Regions from separate parts of the Homo sapiens genome. Here region 1 is linked to region 2. A link means that fine-mapping ties the variant in region 2 to the expression of a gene that starts in the linked region. Tissue or cell type: esophagus muscle. Region 2 holds a variant in brackets; the other region holds the start of a gene. All regions are shown on one strand. Distances are from middle to middle.

Region 1 (8,089 bases), 180 kb after region 2:
GATCCTCTTCCTCTTAAATCTTCTACAACTAAATTTCCCATATTCTTCAAATGGTTCGGTTCCTACATGTTTCATTATTCTAATCACTCCCCTCTTAAGATAACCTAGCTTCTCAATATGCTTCTTAGAAGGAAATACCACAGCTGAACACAAAATTCCAGATCTGATCTGACCAGTGCAATTACTTCCTTTGTCTGGGTCACCATAAGCACCACAATACAAGACCAGTTGCAGGCAGCATATGATTCATTTCCAAACTAGTGGCACTGTTCAGACCACAAGTGCTCCGAGGATTTAAAGGAAAAAGAGATCACTGTGGACTGGGGACCTGAAGAAGTTTTCAACAACAAAAAAAGTAGACTGTTAGCTGGGAAAGTAAGAATACATTTTAGATAGGCAGAAAATATGGAACGAGTATTTCAGGGGGCACAAGTGCAGAACAGAGCAGAGGCAGGAATAAACAAAGTTAGTGCTAGAGCAAAGTCTGCATAAGGATAGGCAAGAATAGAAGGCCACAAGTCTGGAGTCAGAGTATTGAGAGCCTTAAACCTGCAGGCAATAAGGCATGATTAAAGGGCAAGACAAAATAACTGACTTCTTGAATGAAATGTTTAGGAATGATTAATTCAATACCAGTTTGCCAATTTCTACATCAAGTTAACTACTTTTTGAACTCTGCATAGGAAGTTTCTAATTGATTCTACTCCAAGATGAATTGAAATTGAGTTGTAATAAATATCACTATATAGACTGCTTTCAGAATACAACATTCCTACTGCCAAAATACAACGCAAGGAATGTCATTTTAGAAAGATGTATTTTGTGCTGGGTGCAGTGGATTATGCCTCTAATCCCAGCACTTTGGAAGGCCAAGGCAGATGGATCACTTGAGGTCAGAAGTTCAAGACCAGCCTAGCCAACACAGTGAAACTCTGTCTCTACAAAAAATACAAAAATTAGCCGGGCCTGGTGGTTCACTCCTGTAATTCCAGCTGCTCGGGAGGCTGAGGCATGAGAATCACTTGAACCCAGGAGGTGGAGGTTGCAGTGAGCCAAGATCGCAGCACTGCACTCCAGCCTGGGTGACAGAATGAGACTCTGTCTCAAAAAAAGAAAAAGAAATAAAAATAAAGATGTATTTCAATTCATTTCTGTAAGTTTTCCCAAAATGAATACTTTGCCATTCAATATGAATATCTGCATATAAGGTACCTGTTTGTTTCAGTATTTAAAATCTTCTAGATCTCTATTCAAAAAGACAATGGCCTGCTGATCTCGTTTCTCCAGATTCAAAAAAGAAGAAACTTCACTAAAGTAACATTAAAAAGGAAAGAAGTTAGCTAAATAGCAGAATTTCTAGACAATGAAACCTGCCTGCTATTAAAACAAATGAAAACACCAGTAGTTATATAAATTCAGTTAAATAGGAATTTCTGATTCACGAGTGCTCCTGCCTAAAGAGTCTTTCATAAGGACCAGCTCTGTAATACAGTGTGGCCGTAGAGAATTAAACTGTCCAAGAGACACAGCAAAGTCCAACCTCTCCCAAATCCTGCTACTCAGCAGCAGGGATCTAAAGGAATAAATAGATTCCCAGCTGCTGAGAGAAAATGTCTTACTAAAAGCAAAGCAAAATTCTCATTAATGAAAAATCAACCATGAAAGAAGAAAAACTGTATATCTCATAATCCCGGGAAATGGCCAAATCCATTTTGGTTAATGCAGATTCAACAAAATAGTGGAAGAGAACAGAGCAAAGCAGTTTCATCTGCCAGTAGCTGGGGGAAACATCGTTATTGGAGAAATCACAAACAACAACAATGCTTCTAATCTGTAGAGCCAAAAGAAATATGAACTCTCCAGTAAAAGATATCAGGTAAAGGCTCTAGTTGATAAATGCTCTCTCATTCATAATCAAGACACATCAGATATGATAGGCTGTAACCTGAATTTCCCGAGATCAAATTCAATGGCTAATCCAAACCCTGTGTTTTCCTGATCAGATAATCTCTCTGAAGTCACAGTACTTGCATTCATTCAAAACCAGCATTAAGCTTCTACTACGTCAGACACCAGGAATACAAAAACTAATAAGAAACAGTCTCTACCCACATAGAACTTAGTTCGCGTACCATGCCTCATCTTAAACCCCAAAGCTCTTGCTTTAAGATATCTTCTTAGATGGGTCAAGTGTCCTCAGGGGAAAAGCAATAATGGCCCTTCACCTTGAGTTACTGTGAGGCAAGCTAAAATAAAAATAAAAATAAATCATACCTCTTATCCTCAAAAGCAGTCACCACATCCTCCCAAGTGGAACAGAAGAATAATCTTAGCCTATACTACCGGTTAGTGTTCAGGGAAGTGGCAGGGGACAAGACAAGCAATAGAAGGGATGTGACAGCTGTACCACTAACGCATTCAAAGTGTGATAAAAAGAACCTGCTACTAAGCATACTGTAGCGTTACGGTGCGAGGAGGAGGAAAAGAATGAGAGGCTGCCCACCATTCACAGGCACCAACCATCCGCGGTCTTCTAACTCGTCCACTCTCACTAGAGAACCCCAGTCACTGTTTAATAGGATCTGAGCCTGCAGTCCAACAACATTGTCACATGGCTACCAGAATGGAGAGCTAATCGTCCCTTGCAGGAGCTTGGGGGAAAACAAGAAAGTGGAAAGAACTCAAGTGATTGTTAAGTGATTGCCAAAATAATAGACCCCCAAAGCACGGACGGGATGTAAAGTTTGGGTGAGACGGTCACCGGACGTCCACTGGAAGGGTGCGGGGACCTCTACGCCGACACCCCGCCTCCCCGCCTCAGTCCGCGCACTCACCGCGCACGCAGAGCAGTGACATGGCCGAGGATCGGGCAAGCCTCTGCCGCGCCCCAGCCGCGCCGGACCGCTCCCTCTTTCCTCTCAGCAGGTGCCGCGACTGCTCTCGTTACCGGCCCCACGGGTCTGGCAGCTCCTCATGGTCCCGGTCGCAGGTAGCGTCCCGCCGCTGCCTCGGACCCGCCCCAAATCTCACCGTCTGAGCGAACTCCGGGTAGCGGTGAGTACCGGCCGGCAGGCTGGGGACTGGGCGCGGCACAGCGACGCCATCGCTGGGAGGTAGGAGCTGCCGGGACTCCCTCCCGTCATTCCACCCGGGATCCGCGCGAGCGCCTGGGCGGAGCCAACCCGTGGTGCCCCGCCCCCCAGCCAATTAACTCACGCCCAGTCCACCGACCCCGCCCCCCCCCGCGAGCACGTAGGAGGCGGGGTCCCCTTCCTCCTTTCTTTCTTGCGATCCTGAAGGAAGCTCCGCCCACTAATCAGGCTTACTGCAGGGAGCAAGGGGTTGACCCTCAGTTGTGTGACGCGAGAATGGAAGCCCTCTGTTCCTCCTGCATGAGCGGGGCTTCCACCCAAGAACAGATTCTTTTCATTGAAGGATTTCCACTGGACTTTCTTAGAGTCTAGCGGTCATAGCTGACAGCCTGTAATTTTAAGTTAACGAAGTCGCACCGCACAGCAAAGTTAAGTTTTGTTTAGCAACTAGGGCAAAAGACAAAACTGAGTGGGCATAAAGTATGTCTGGAGACCTCAGTTCTTATCTAGACCGTTTTTTATGCTCATCATTGTATCTCCAATGTCTGGAATAGTGCCTAGTGTATGGTAATCAGTCCGTAAATATTTACTGAATGAAGGATGGTAACCACGGAGGGATTGTGAGTGGAGATACCTCTGATCTTTGACAAATCTCCTATCCATGCTTGGTACCAACATGAGCTAACTCCATGGCTCAAACCAACAGGACAATTTGCTAAGGTCTAGGAGCACCCCCTCCAGAGAATCCCTGATCTCCCAAAATTTGGTCGAGATCTAAAGTTCATTTTGTTGTACAACTCCCTCTATTATTATTATTATTATTATTATTATTATTATTATTTTGGAGTTTTACTTGCTTCCAACAAGGAAGGCAAGTTTTCCTGCTTCCATGACGAGGGAAGGCAGGTAACTCTTTTATGGAGTTTGAGCTCACTTCCAACAGGGAAGATGAGGGGTTTTTTTCCTACTTCTGGGATGGTAGACAGCCGTTTTCAGCCTGAGACGCACCCCTAGGTAAGTAGCTGAATAGGGATTTTTGTCTTGGCTAAAGTTAACAACCAGCTGGTCTTAATTTCTGCTTACCATTAGAGTGCTCAGTGATCATATTGTTGGGTTTTTTTTTATTTTGTTTGTCTTTTTCCCATTGACCAACTCTACTTCACTTGGTCAAATCCAAGTGAGAATTCCAAATTATGGGTAACAAGGCCTATCTAATTTGAGTAAAATTCCTCACAGCTGCAAAAGAAAAAACAAACAGAAAACAAAAAACCATGTATTTGGTTTCTGTGTTTGCTTCCTGGTCTTAAAAATTAAACTGTTCTTAGGCCGGGCGCGGTGGCTCACACCTGTAATCCTAGCACTTTGGGAGGCCGAGGCGGGCGGATCACGAGGTCAGGAGTTCAAGGCCAGCCTGGCCAACATAGTGAAACCCTGTCTCTACTGAAAATACAAAAAAAATTAGCCGGGCATGGTGGCGGGTGCCTGTAATCCCAGCTACTCGGGAGGCTGAGGCAGGAGAATTGCTTGAACCAGGAGGCGCAGGTTGCAGTGAGTGGAGATCGAGCCATTGCACTCCAGCCTGAGCTACAGTGTGAGACTCTGTCTCAAATTAAAAAAAAAAAAAAAAAAAATTCAATTGTTCTTTTGTTTACTTTTCTTCCACCCTATACCTCCTTCACCCTTTGCCATCTGCATTACCAAAAAATCGAGAGAAGGCTTCTAATGACTTGAACCTCTTTAAAGAATTTAGGCCGGGCGCCATGGTTCACGCCTGTAATCCCAGCACTTTGGGAGGCCGAGGTGGGCGGATCACGAGGTCAGGAGTTCGAGACTCAGCCTCGCCAACATGATGAAACCCTGTCTCGACTAAAGATACAAAAAAAGTTAGCCAGGCATGGTGGCACGTGCCTGTAATCCCAGCTACTCAGGAGGCAGAGGCAGGAGAATCACTTGAACCTGGGAGGCGGAGGTTGCAGTGAGCTGAGATCGTGCCATTGCACTCCAGCCTGGGTGACAGGGCAAGACTCTATCTCAAAAAAAAAAAAAGAATTTAGAACAAAGGTGCCACTCACCCCCTTTTGGGGTGTTCTCTTGGCTTTGTGGGATTTCAAGAGTCATGGGCAGATTCTTCTTAGGTCTAAAGCTCTGTTTTCCTGTATTGCATGACCTGACCTTTTTGGCTTTGGGTGCCAGAGATGACCTTGCACTGTGAGAGGATTTGACCTTGGTGTGTATATTGTTGGAAAAGAGCTACAAAGTTACGGGTGGCTGAGCACAGTTTATAGGAAGTGGTTTTGGCTGTTTCCTTTTTTTTTTTTTTTTTTTTTTTTAATTTTCTCTCCTAGGAAGTCGTTGTTTAAGAATCCTAATTCTAGGCCAGGTGCGGTGGTTCACACCTGTAATCCCAGCACTTTGGGAGGCTGAGGCGGGCGGACCACTTGACCCCACAAGTTCAAGATTAGCCGGGCCTGGTGGTGTGCACCTGTAATCCCAGCTATTCGAAGGCTGAGGTAGGGCAATTGCTTGAACCAGGGAGGTGGAAGTTGCACTGTGCCGAGATCGTGCCACTGCACTCAGCCTGGGCGACAGAGCGAGACTCCATCTCAAAAAAAAAAAAAAATCCTAATTCTAGTTTGGAGATCCGTTCTGAAGGATCCTTTATATTGCTTTTTCTCCCAACATTAATCTCAATTCCGTTTGTCTGTGTGCATTTGCATGAGGAACTGAACTGTTGCTTTCATAGGTATATCAGAGACTGAGTTTTCTCAGCTCCAAAAAGAAAGGGCATTTGCCCCTCCCAACTGAAAGGTGCCCCTGAGTGACTGGGGACCTTGTGGGAGTGTCTGAAAGGTTGACCCCGAACGATGTGCAGTGGTCCTGCAGGGAAATCCCCAACAAAAATTAATTTAGGCCAGGTGCGGTCACACACACATAATCCTAGCATTTCAGGAGGCCGAGGCAGGCAGATCACTTGAGGTCATGAGTTCAAGACCAAGCCTGACAAACATAGCAAAACCGCATCTCTACTAATAATACAAAAATTAGCCAGGTGTAGTGGTGCGTGCCTGTAACCCCAGTTGCTTAGGAGACTGAGACGTAAGAATTGCCCGAACCCAGAAAGTGGAGGTTGCAGTGAACCAAGATTATGCCACTGCACTCCAGCCGGGGCAACAGAGTAAGACCTTGTCTCAAAAAAATATATATATATATATTTAATTTAAAAACTGGCTCATCCAGGAAACACATTGAAGGGCTGATCACCCAGTGTTGTGAGCCCTCTCAGAAGTCATAAACCTCTGGAGAGAGAAACTGAGACATGTAAGAGGGTGGAAACCATTCAGTGGTGGCACATTGTGGAGTCCTGCCCACAAGCAGCACGTGATGATCCACCACACAGAAACTCTAAGCCACAGCTCAGTTTCTCCTTTTAAGAAAAAAAGAAGTGGAAAACAAATAATCTAAGAATGAGAAGAAAACAAGGAGAATGACCCTCTTTTGAGCACTCTGTAGGTTTTATGGCACCTCTACTGCCAAAGTTTATGTAAAATGGAAAAAATATGGTCTTTGTGCACATTTACATTAAGAAAAAAGAGCCCTAAGGTCGACCTACTAATTATAGAGTTCCTAAGACCTCTTTTCTCTATTCTTTTCTGCCTGCTCTAAATCTGCCATTATTTTCTGTTAAGATAAAAACCACAGTTTAGATCCAACAAGTTCTTTTTGCAAACCGGTAAATTTGAATTTATCTCATAGCTAAAAGTTCTGAAGTAAAAGCTATAGGATGTGTGTGTGTGTGTATTTAAAAGGCTTTTATAATTTCTATAATTTTATGTTTAATTGGCCATTAAATCTGTTTCAATTTCCGTCTAGCACACCAGACTTTTTCTCTCCACACTTTATAATGTAAATTTTGCTGTTTGGAGTTCACCTGAGTTGTTTTCTTTAATATGCAAATTTAAGGCTATTTAGCTGACAACTGCCTAGGGTTGTGAAACAGGTTATCAAGAATCTGAAAGTAGCGGGGAGGGAGGAGGGGAAAAAAAGAATCTGAAAGCCTAAGGAAAAAAAACGTTTTTTATGAATCTATAAGAGGTACCTCTAGGCCAGGTGCAGTGGTTCACGCCTGTAATCCCAACACTCTGGGAGGCCGAGGTGGGCAGATCACCTAAGGTCAAGAGTTCGAGACCAGCCTGGACAACATGGTGAAACCTGTCTCTACTAAAAATACAAAAATAGCCAGGCGTGGTGGCACATGCCTGTAGTCCCAGCTACTCGGGAGGCCGAAGCAGAAGTATCACTTGAACCCAGCGGGTAGAAGTTGCAGTGAGCTGAGATCATGCCATTGCACTCCAGCCTGGGTGACAAGAGAAAAACTCTGTCTCAAAAAAAAAAAAAAAAAGATGTACCTCTATCAGCATGCCTAATGTGTCTATGTATTTATGTGTTGTGTACACAATGTTTCACTACTGAAAATATATAAAAGAGCTCTAATTAATTGGCGTAAGAAAATAAAAGTGCTTAAATCAAACACTTATTCAGGAAAAAATAAAATAGTCAAATGCTTTTTCAAGTTTACATAACTTAAGTAAAATCTTTACTAATGTTGATGAAAAAAATCAAACTCTGTAAAATATTTGAAGAGATTTATTCTAAGCCAAATATGAGTAACCATGGCCCATGACACAGCCCTCAGGAGGTCTTGAGAACATGAGCCCCAGGTAGTTGGGGTGCAGCTTGGTTTTATAAATTTTTGGGAGGCATGAGACATCAATCAAATACATTTAAGAAATACATTGGTTTGGTCCAGAAAGACGGAACAACTCAAAGGGGGGCTTCCAGACTATAGGTAAATTTAAACATTTTCTGGTTGAAAATTGGTTGAGTTTGTCTAAAGACCAGGGATCATAGAAAGGAAATATTTAGGTTAAGAAAAAACACTGTGGAGACCAAGGTTCTTTTGAAGTCTTATAGTGGCTGCCCTTAGAGAAAATAGATGA
Region 2 (8,103 bases):
GCTGCTCCATATTCCACCCACAAATGCTTTCCTTTTGCCCTGCTTGTTGTTCAGTCAGTCATACACACTCGGTACCACTTACCTTGCTGCTGCAACCAAAATAAGGGTTAAGGAAATTAAAAAAAAAAATTAAAACCATGAATTCTCAAGTTTTAGAAGGCAAATGCTGTCTTTAAGAGGAAATCCATCCAGGAGCACTCCTTGGTTTGACAGAGAAGCCACAGGACGAACTTTCTGAGCCAAAGCACCACTGCTTGCCCAACCGACAAACAGACCCAAGGAGCTAATATTCTCAGTTGCACCCAGCTGGCTGGCTCCACGGCACAAAGTTGATGACAGAAACAATGCCCTGCAAAAAAACCCCTCAGTGAAGGGCTTGGCAGGAGTCTCACTGGCTGCAAACGTAGAAATCTAACCTGGTCCACACCTCTCTGGCAAGGGGGATTCTGAGATCAGCCTGCTGAAGGCAACAGCAGCCAAACTTCAACTGGATGTGGAATTCTAACTCAATCGATTCTGGGCTTTGAGACTGAGGCAGAAAGCAGGGCAGCTCCTGCTCCTGCTGCTGCTCCTCCTCCTCTCCAGCTGCTTCCTGCCTGCAACCTCCCATAGGGCACCAGCCCTCCTCACACGTTCCTGGCGCACACACCCCCTTCCCAGCACACTCACGCACACACAACCCTTGCCAGCAAGCTCACTCACACACCCTTGGTAAGTGTCTCTCCCTTTTGCTAAATATAGATCTTACTCTCTCCCCTCCTCCATTTCCTTCCCTCGTTCTTCTCCTCCCTGCTTTCTTTTCCCCTATCCACCTCTCTCACATCTGGGCTATAGGATATAAACAGACACAGATGGAGACCTATACTTTCAGGAGCTCCTAGTCTCAGAGGGAAGCCGGAACACAGCATGCCAGCCGTGGAACTGCTGGAGCACAATACAAAGGGAGTCTTCCCTTCTACTGAGACAAGCTCTAAGTTGGTTGGTTGGTTGGTTTCGTGTATATATAATCTGTTGTCAGCATTTGGCAAAGCTGAAGGATAGGTACAGTGATCAAGTGCAGTTAAAATCAAACAGTGCCATGTTCTTGGAGTAGACATCTATTCCAGTTCTTACTGAACAACCACCACAAGAGAATCAACTGGAAAATAAGAGCTCCCTCAGGCTATGCCAAAGCAACAACCCGAGAGAAGGAGGGGAAGTTAGGTGAGCTGAGATGAACTCTGTATTGCAGAAGTCTAGACCAAAGATGGTTTCAGAATCCAGAATTAGGAACGAAGTAACCTAAAGTGATATCACCATGACCAAAAAGCTGCCTAAGGTTCAGGGCCCCTTTTATGACCCCAAATTTCATAACCCTTCTTTGCCAATGGATGCCCTATCTCCCTGGAGACTCACTAGCCAGGTGGCTCTCATGTGACCCTAATTCCTAATAATTCAACAATTCTAGTTAGGACTCACTGGGAAATTGAATGTCCTTATCTTCAAAGAACACTCAAGTTGTTCACTGCAACATAATGTCCGAGCACAAGCCAGGACCCCTTGAAGCTCTGTAGCATAAAATGCCAAATACATGAAATGTGATATCCCCTTTCCACTCTGCAACCATAGGACATGAAAAACATCGCATAATGAACCTAGATAACCTCAGAATCCTTCTCAATATAGAGCTCGATCAGCCAGTAACAATCCAGTGAAGTCATTCCTCTTCTGACTCCCCTGAGCTTGATCTTAAGAGAAAAGGCCCTCTTCCTCCTTAGGCCAACAGTACGTGGGCAAGTTTGATTTACCCAGCATGCCCAAACCAGGCTCTCAAACCTTGTGACTTCTGCTGCCCTGCAACATTCCTCATGGCAATCCACAACAGAGTATGGCCTCTTTAGCCCACAAACCAGGTAGTCAGTCTATGGGGACCATCCTAGGATCTGCCATTGCAGAACAGGCAGCCCTTTATGGTAGATAAAACAAGCATTTAAATTAAGAATGATTTGTTTGGCTTATCCAAGATCCTGAGAAGAAAGGGTTGATTTCAGAGCCAACATGTGCCTCCCTACTGCCTTCTTCCAATAACATTGCTTCCCCCTCAACCAAGGAAGAAAATTTAGATTCCAAGAGATGCTAAACAACCCATTTCTTAGCCATCCACCTCATTACACAGCCAACACTAACAGCAGAGCACATACCTCCTAACCTAGTTGGGAGCTGGCTAGATGACAGAAGAGATAAGGCCTGACAGCACAACTATAACCGCATCTAAACACAGAGGAAAAAAATAACTTGAAAACTGTCAAGTTTCTGTGGAAGTCACAGCCAATTTACTGTGGAGTTTCCCATCCTTCAGCCAGGAGAAGGAGGTAAAAGGTTTAAAACAAGAAATATAGGGAAGATTGATTAAATTAGAATTCCCTCCCCCAAATCTGCAGCCACTCATAAAGAGCCCAGAACAGTGGCTGTCACTATCAGGTTTGGTCAGGCTTCCTAGGCTAAGGAGAAGCTCAAACTTTCAAGAGTGGGAAAGATTCCCCAGAGGTAGGACCCTGCTAAAAGAACCTACTTCTTCCTGCCTAATTGACAAAGTGGCCCTAAGGCCTGGCTAAGGCCTCCAGATGGCATTTCTGAGGCTAATGGAACCCACCCTGTCTTGTCACCCAAACACATCCAGCCCATTTTTCTAAGCAGCTTGGGCTTTCCAGAAAAACAAAGGCTCAGGCAGTAGAAGACGTGGTTAGCACATGAGGCACAACAAATCTGCCATCTCCAGTTACAATCTTCAAACTTCACAGGAGAGCTCATGCAGCTTTGACCACAAATTACCTTTGTATCTATCCACCTTCCCATGTTCCAGCAAAAGCAAGAAACAGAGTAAGTGGGGAAGTGGCAAACAGTCAGTGGAAGCTCTTGTAAAAGAGCATGGCCCCTTCTGCCACTGTTCTACAGGGCCCACAGAGTGCCAGACACCACATGGCCAAAGGACATCAGGACTCCTCAGTGGACTAGCTCTTTGGGACAAGCAGGCAATTTGTTTTGTGAGCCACATGGGCAACAATGCAGCCCCCTCATCACAGTGGATCTGGCCCTGGGGAAGCCTGAGTAGGCCGAAAGGATGGGGTGCTTTTTAGAGGTAAGAAATAGCACAGCACCCACCTCAGTTGGGAAGCTTCCTCAAAGTAGGCTGCTCAGGAGCTAGCTGGGCAGAACTGGAAAAACAGATTGGGTTAAGAAGGAAAAGGCATTTATCCAGAAGCTGTGAAATGCTCTGAACAGACATTCTCAAGGTCTGGTTCCCAATTTAAATCCTTGCAGGGATCTTCGCCTAGAGACAGATGAGTCAAGATGGAAACTCAACATGATACACTGACACTCACGCAGAGTTGTGGGAAGGTTCAGACCTGCAGGAGTTCTAAAGGGGAGCCGAATGGGTGGGTTAGTCAGAAAACCACCTGGCATACAAAATTCATCTTCAGCTAAAGCAACTGAGTGGTGTCACAGAAATACTGGAGGAGGGCCTCACCAATCACAATTCTCCCTACTCATACAAACCAGTCTAAGTCTCCCTGACGTCAGATACAACTGGTCTAGAAGCAAAGAATATGCCTGCTCCAAACCTGGCCTGCCTTTTCAGGTGTCAATGCCAGAGACAGGCTGGGTCAGGACCAGCAGGTGCTTACCTTATTGTCCAATATCAACACAGACGCAGAGTACAAAGGATGGGTGCGGCCAATATCTATATCATGCAAGAGTCAGCTTGTGACTGTTTTCCTTCTCTACTGCTGAGGAAAGCCAGAAGCAACATGAAAAAGCTGACATATAGTCACACAGCTGGGATTTATTTCATGAGGAAGATGATTTTTCTGGTGGCTAAGAAAAGTCATTTTTCCCGCTGTAGAATGATGCCCTCCCTACACCATGGAGAAAGCATATGCAGCAGAGAATGACGGGCAGCAGGAGGTAATCCTGCTCCTTCCCTGAGGAGCATGCCATCCTAGGGGAGTGACAAGCCTGGCAGAGATGTGCTGACTTTACTGATGCACTAAGACATAGCTGCTTTGTTACCTAAACAGACCCGACAAGCTGCAAGGCAGGCCCTAAGAGTCATAAATTGCTGACAAGTCTTAGTCCTACAATCAGGTCAAGGACCATCCCTGATTAGCAGAAACTTGAACATAAGGAGCTGATAAACTTCTTGGAACTGGCCAGCTAACCAGTTAGGTTTTCAGCCTGTACCTCCAAAGGCTGTGGCCCCCTATCTATTTCAGGACCAAATAATTAACAATTCATGATCATAAGAAACCTATATGTCTACTGCCCTCTCACATAAACCCGATCAAAAGTCACAGCTCCCAGATTTAGGACTAATGCCGGTCCTAAAGTAGTATTTGTTTATATATATATCCCAGCCCAAGCCACAGAGTGCATTGGCCCTGCCTCAATCTCTATACCCAAAGGAAACAAAGAGGCCATATACCGAGGATCCTCTAAAAGGAATCCAAAATTTGACATCCCAGGGAGAAATGAACCTCTTGTACTAAGTGGAGACTAACTGGGTTAATATTGATCAAATATCCCCTCAGTTCTTTATGGCTTGTTCTAAGATACATCTAAGAATAAGATATAGGGCAAACCCAAATCTGGAGAATTCTCCTGGCTTAGGCCCCTGTTTCTATAGTCTTGTGGAAATATGTCCCTAACCAGCAGATGAGTTTCAAGTGTCTTCACATTCAATGAAGGGATCCCAAAGAG[G/A]TGGGTTTTTCCCTACAGGATTCTCCAAATATTCAAAAGTATCTGATATGAGGTACTGAATTACAGGAAGGTAGCTAATGTACAAAGGGGAAAAGAAGACTTAATGAAGGCGTATCCTTCACTGGGGATCTCTGACAGTAAGAGGGAAGCATGGTGGAAAGAAAGGGAAGCACTCAACTAGGTAAGTCTGAAGAGAGAACTACGTGTTTAGAGGACTAGGCTGCCAGCTCACCCATATCAACCCATGCAGAGATGACTTCTCTGCTCAGATACTGGATCATTGGAATCCATATATTCTAATTCTTTACCCAGTGAGAGAAGCCCCTGCAAAGCCCTTTGTGCCTCTGCCATAATCTATTTTACCTTCTTATCTATCAGTGTCTCCTCTGCAATCTTTAGTCCAGGCTTATTTCTCACTTCAACTACTGCAAAATATTCATTCTCCCTAGACTCCATTCCTCCAGAACCACCTCCCACTCACTCCTCTTTACCCTTGATCCGTGATGCACAATTTGCTAGGGGGATATTTCTAAGATGTACATAAGTTTTTGTCACTCATTTTCTTAAAATCCGTCAGTGACTGTGAAAAAAAAAAAAGTCCTAGTTCTTTACATGTTATCAAAGTTCTTTCTTGACCTGCCCATGTCTAGAGGAATTTGGCTTCCCAACACCCTAACTTTAGTCAAAGCAAACCCCTTGCACTCACTTAATGTGCCATCTCATCCTTTCTGTTTCCAGATGGCCCTATGTAGAGTGCCATCAGAGAGTAAACATCAGGATGGTGAGAAGGTAGGAACCTTTTCAAGTGCTTTGTCAGAAGATAAGACTTGTAAATAAACATGAAAAACTACTTTGGTACCTGTAATGGGTTGAATTGCCTGAACGTCTGTGTCACTCCAAAATTCATATGTTAAAATCCTAACCCTCAAGGTGATGACATTAGGAGGTGAGCCTTTGGGGAGGTGAACAGATCATGAAGGCAGAGCCCTAATGAATGGGATTAGTGCCTTTATAAAAGAGGCCCACAGGAGTTCTTTTGCCCCTTCCACCAGCTACTTGGGAAGCTGAGGTGGGAAGATAACCTAAGATATCCTAAGCCCAGGGCGTCAAGGCAGCAGTGAGCCATGATCACACCACTGCACTTCAACCTGGGTGACAGAGCGAGACTCTTTCTCGAAAAAATAAAATAAATAAAAAACAAAAAATAAATGAACACCTATTAAGTAACAACATCTTGTTAACAGGCGTAATGAAAAGATACAATCCTTGCCCTTAAGAAGTTCATAACCTAACGGGGGAAATGTTAAAGCAAGAGGCATTGTTATACCCATGTTATATATTCTGAGGGAGAGGAGTGTTAGATTTTATGTTTGACGGGGTAGTAAGAAAGGATATATAGAAGAGGAAGTGGAGGAGAAAAAAAAGATGGTAAGTACGGTTTGAACACATTGTATGAAGTGGCTATGAACATTCAGGTGACAATATCCACAGGAAGCTGGATAAAAAAGTCTGGAACTCATGAAAGAGGACTGAGGTAGAGATAGTAATTTGGGATTTATCAGTTACAGGTTAGGACATGGATGAGATTAACTAGAAAAGAAAATGAGGTAGAAAACAAAGCCTGGGAATTATCAAGTTTTAAGGGGCAAGCAGAGAAAGAGAAATGCTATGAAGAAATCAAAGATGGGGCCAGGCGCAGTGACTCAGGCCTGTAATCCCACCACTTATGGAGGCTGAAGTAGAAGGACTGAGGCCAGGAGTTCAAGACCAGCCTGGGCAACATAGGGGGACCCCCATCTCTACAAGAAAAATTTAAAAATTAGCCAGGTCTGGTGGCACATCCTTGTAGTCCTAGCTATTCTAATCCCAGCTACTTGGAGGCTGAAGCAGGAGGTCTGCCTGAGCCCAGGAGTTCGAGGTTACAGTGAGCCGTGATTGTGCCACTGCACTCCAGCTTGAGTGACAGACCAAGACCCCTTTAAAAAAAAAAAAAAAGGCCAAGAAGGAAGAATATTTTAGAGAGAAATCAGTCAACAGTTTTATCTCATCTGTCGTTAACAAATGCTCCAGGAGGTTGGTTTTCATCTAAAATGATCTTCCTAACTTGTCTTCTTTGGCTGTTTAAGTCTGAGTGTTCTCAGGTGAGGACTGAATAAACACATTTCCTTAGCATGCTTGAAGGTGACAACCAGCAAAGAGAAGAAGCAGCTTAAAGAATGGGCTACAACTTACCTCTTTCCCTTTGGCTTCAGGAAGTTTACTGAAGTCTTACAATATGACTGTACTTCAGGGCATAGTGGTAAATAGCAGCTGCATTGTCCACAGGAAGAATGCAACATGCCACTTGCAAGAGGCCATGGATCTCCCCCATGGCATATGCTTGCAAACACAGGAAGCAAGTTATCCCTTGATTTCCATCTTTAGAAGCTCATGTTATTTTATTTCTTGGCCATTTCCTGATACTTAACTGCTAACTTAGTATTCTCTGGGAATTCCTCTGAGAAGACTTCTCTGATCACCCTAATCCAAAGGGCTTGTTCCTTAAAGTCCTGTGGCAACTATTTTCAGTTAAAAGACTTAATTATTTCTTTTGCAATCAGTTACTTAGGGCCGTGTAATACCACTTAATTTTTTTAATTTTTTATTTGTTTTGAGACGGAGTCTCACTCTTGTCACCCAGCTGGAATGCAGTGGCGCGATCTCGGCTCACTGCAACCTCCACCTCCCGGGTTCAAGTGATTCTCCTCTCTCAGCCTCCTGAGTAGCTGGGATTACAGGTGCCCGCCACCAAGCCCGGATAATTTTTGTACTTTTAGTAGAGATGGGGGTTTCGCCATGTTGGCCAGGCTGGTCTGGAACTCCTGACCTCAGGTGATCCACTCGCCTCAGCCTCCCAAAGTGCTGGGATTACAGGCGTGAGCCACCGCGCCCGGCCACCTAATATTTTTAAGTGTTCATTCCATAAATCTTTGCTGAGTTTTTACTAAGTATCAGGAGGAATTGATGCTAAGAATTGGTGATCAGTTCTTGACCTCAAGAGCAATCTAGCAAAGGATTTAAAGCCTGTAAGTATGCAAGGAAAATACACGTAGAAAGCCAAAATAATAAGAAAATAAGTGGCCAGGAATGGGGTCTTCCCTGAACTGTTTTTCTACCTACATGCACTAGGGATATTAGGCAGAGAAGATACTCCAGGTGAATGTCTACTCTTAATTCCTAAGACTTGAGACTCAAACATCTGCATGGCCTTTTACCTTGATAAGCCAAGCTGGGCCAAAAGACGTCTTTAGCAGAAGAGGTTTTTAACCATTTCAAAAGGCAGGTCAAACAGTCTGCAACTTAAACTTTAGCCCCTGGGCCCATATT

What was found. PIP is the estimated chance that this variant, and not a neighbour inherited with it, causes the effect.
Region 1: UNC13B starts here. The variant in region 2 is fine-mapped to the expression of UNC13B in esophagus muscle (GTEx, PIP above 0.99).

Annotation. Positions count from the first base shown.
Region 1 is chr9:35,157,051-35,165,139 of GRCh38, reverse strand. UNC13B (unc-13 homolog B) reads right to left here and starts at 3,131. Exons shown (of 40, transcript NM_001371189.2): 1 at 2,835-3,131. The coding sequence starts at 2,856. RefSeq lists a silencer at 3,136-3,265 and an enhancer at 6,772-7,325.
Region 2 is chr9:35,334,324-35,342,426 of GRCh38, reverse strand. All of the region lies in intron 11 of UNC13B (unc-13 homolog B), which reads right to left. Among named protein-coding and RNA genes, the nearest start is that of RUSC2, 150 kb to the left of the region's middle. RefSeq lists a silencer at 6,901-7,195. The variant G/A (reference allele first, on the strand shown) is at 4,738.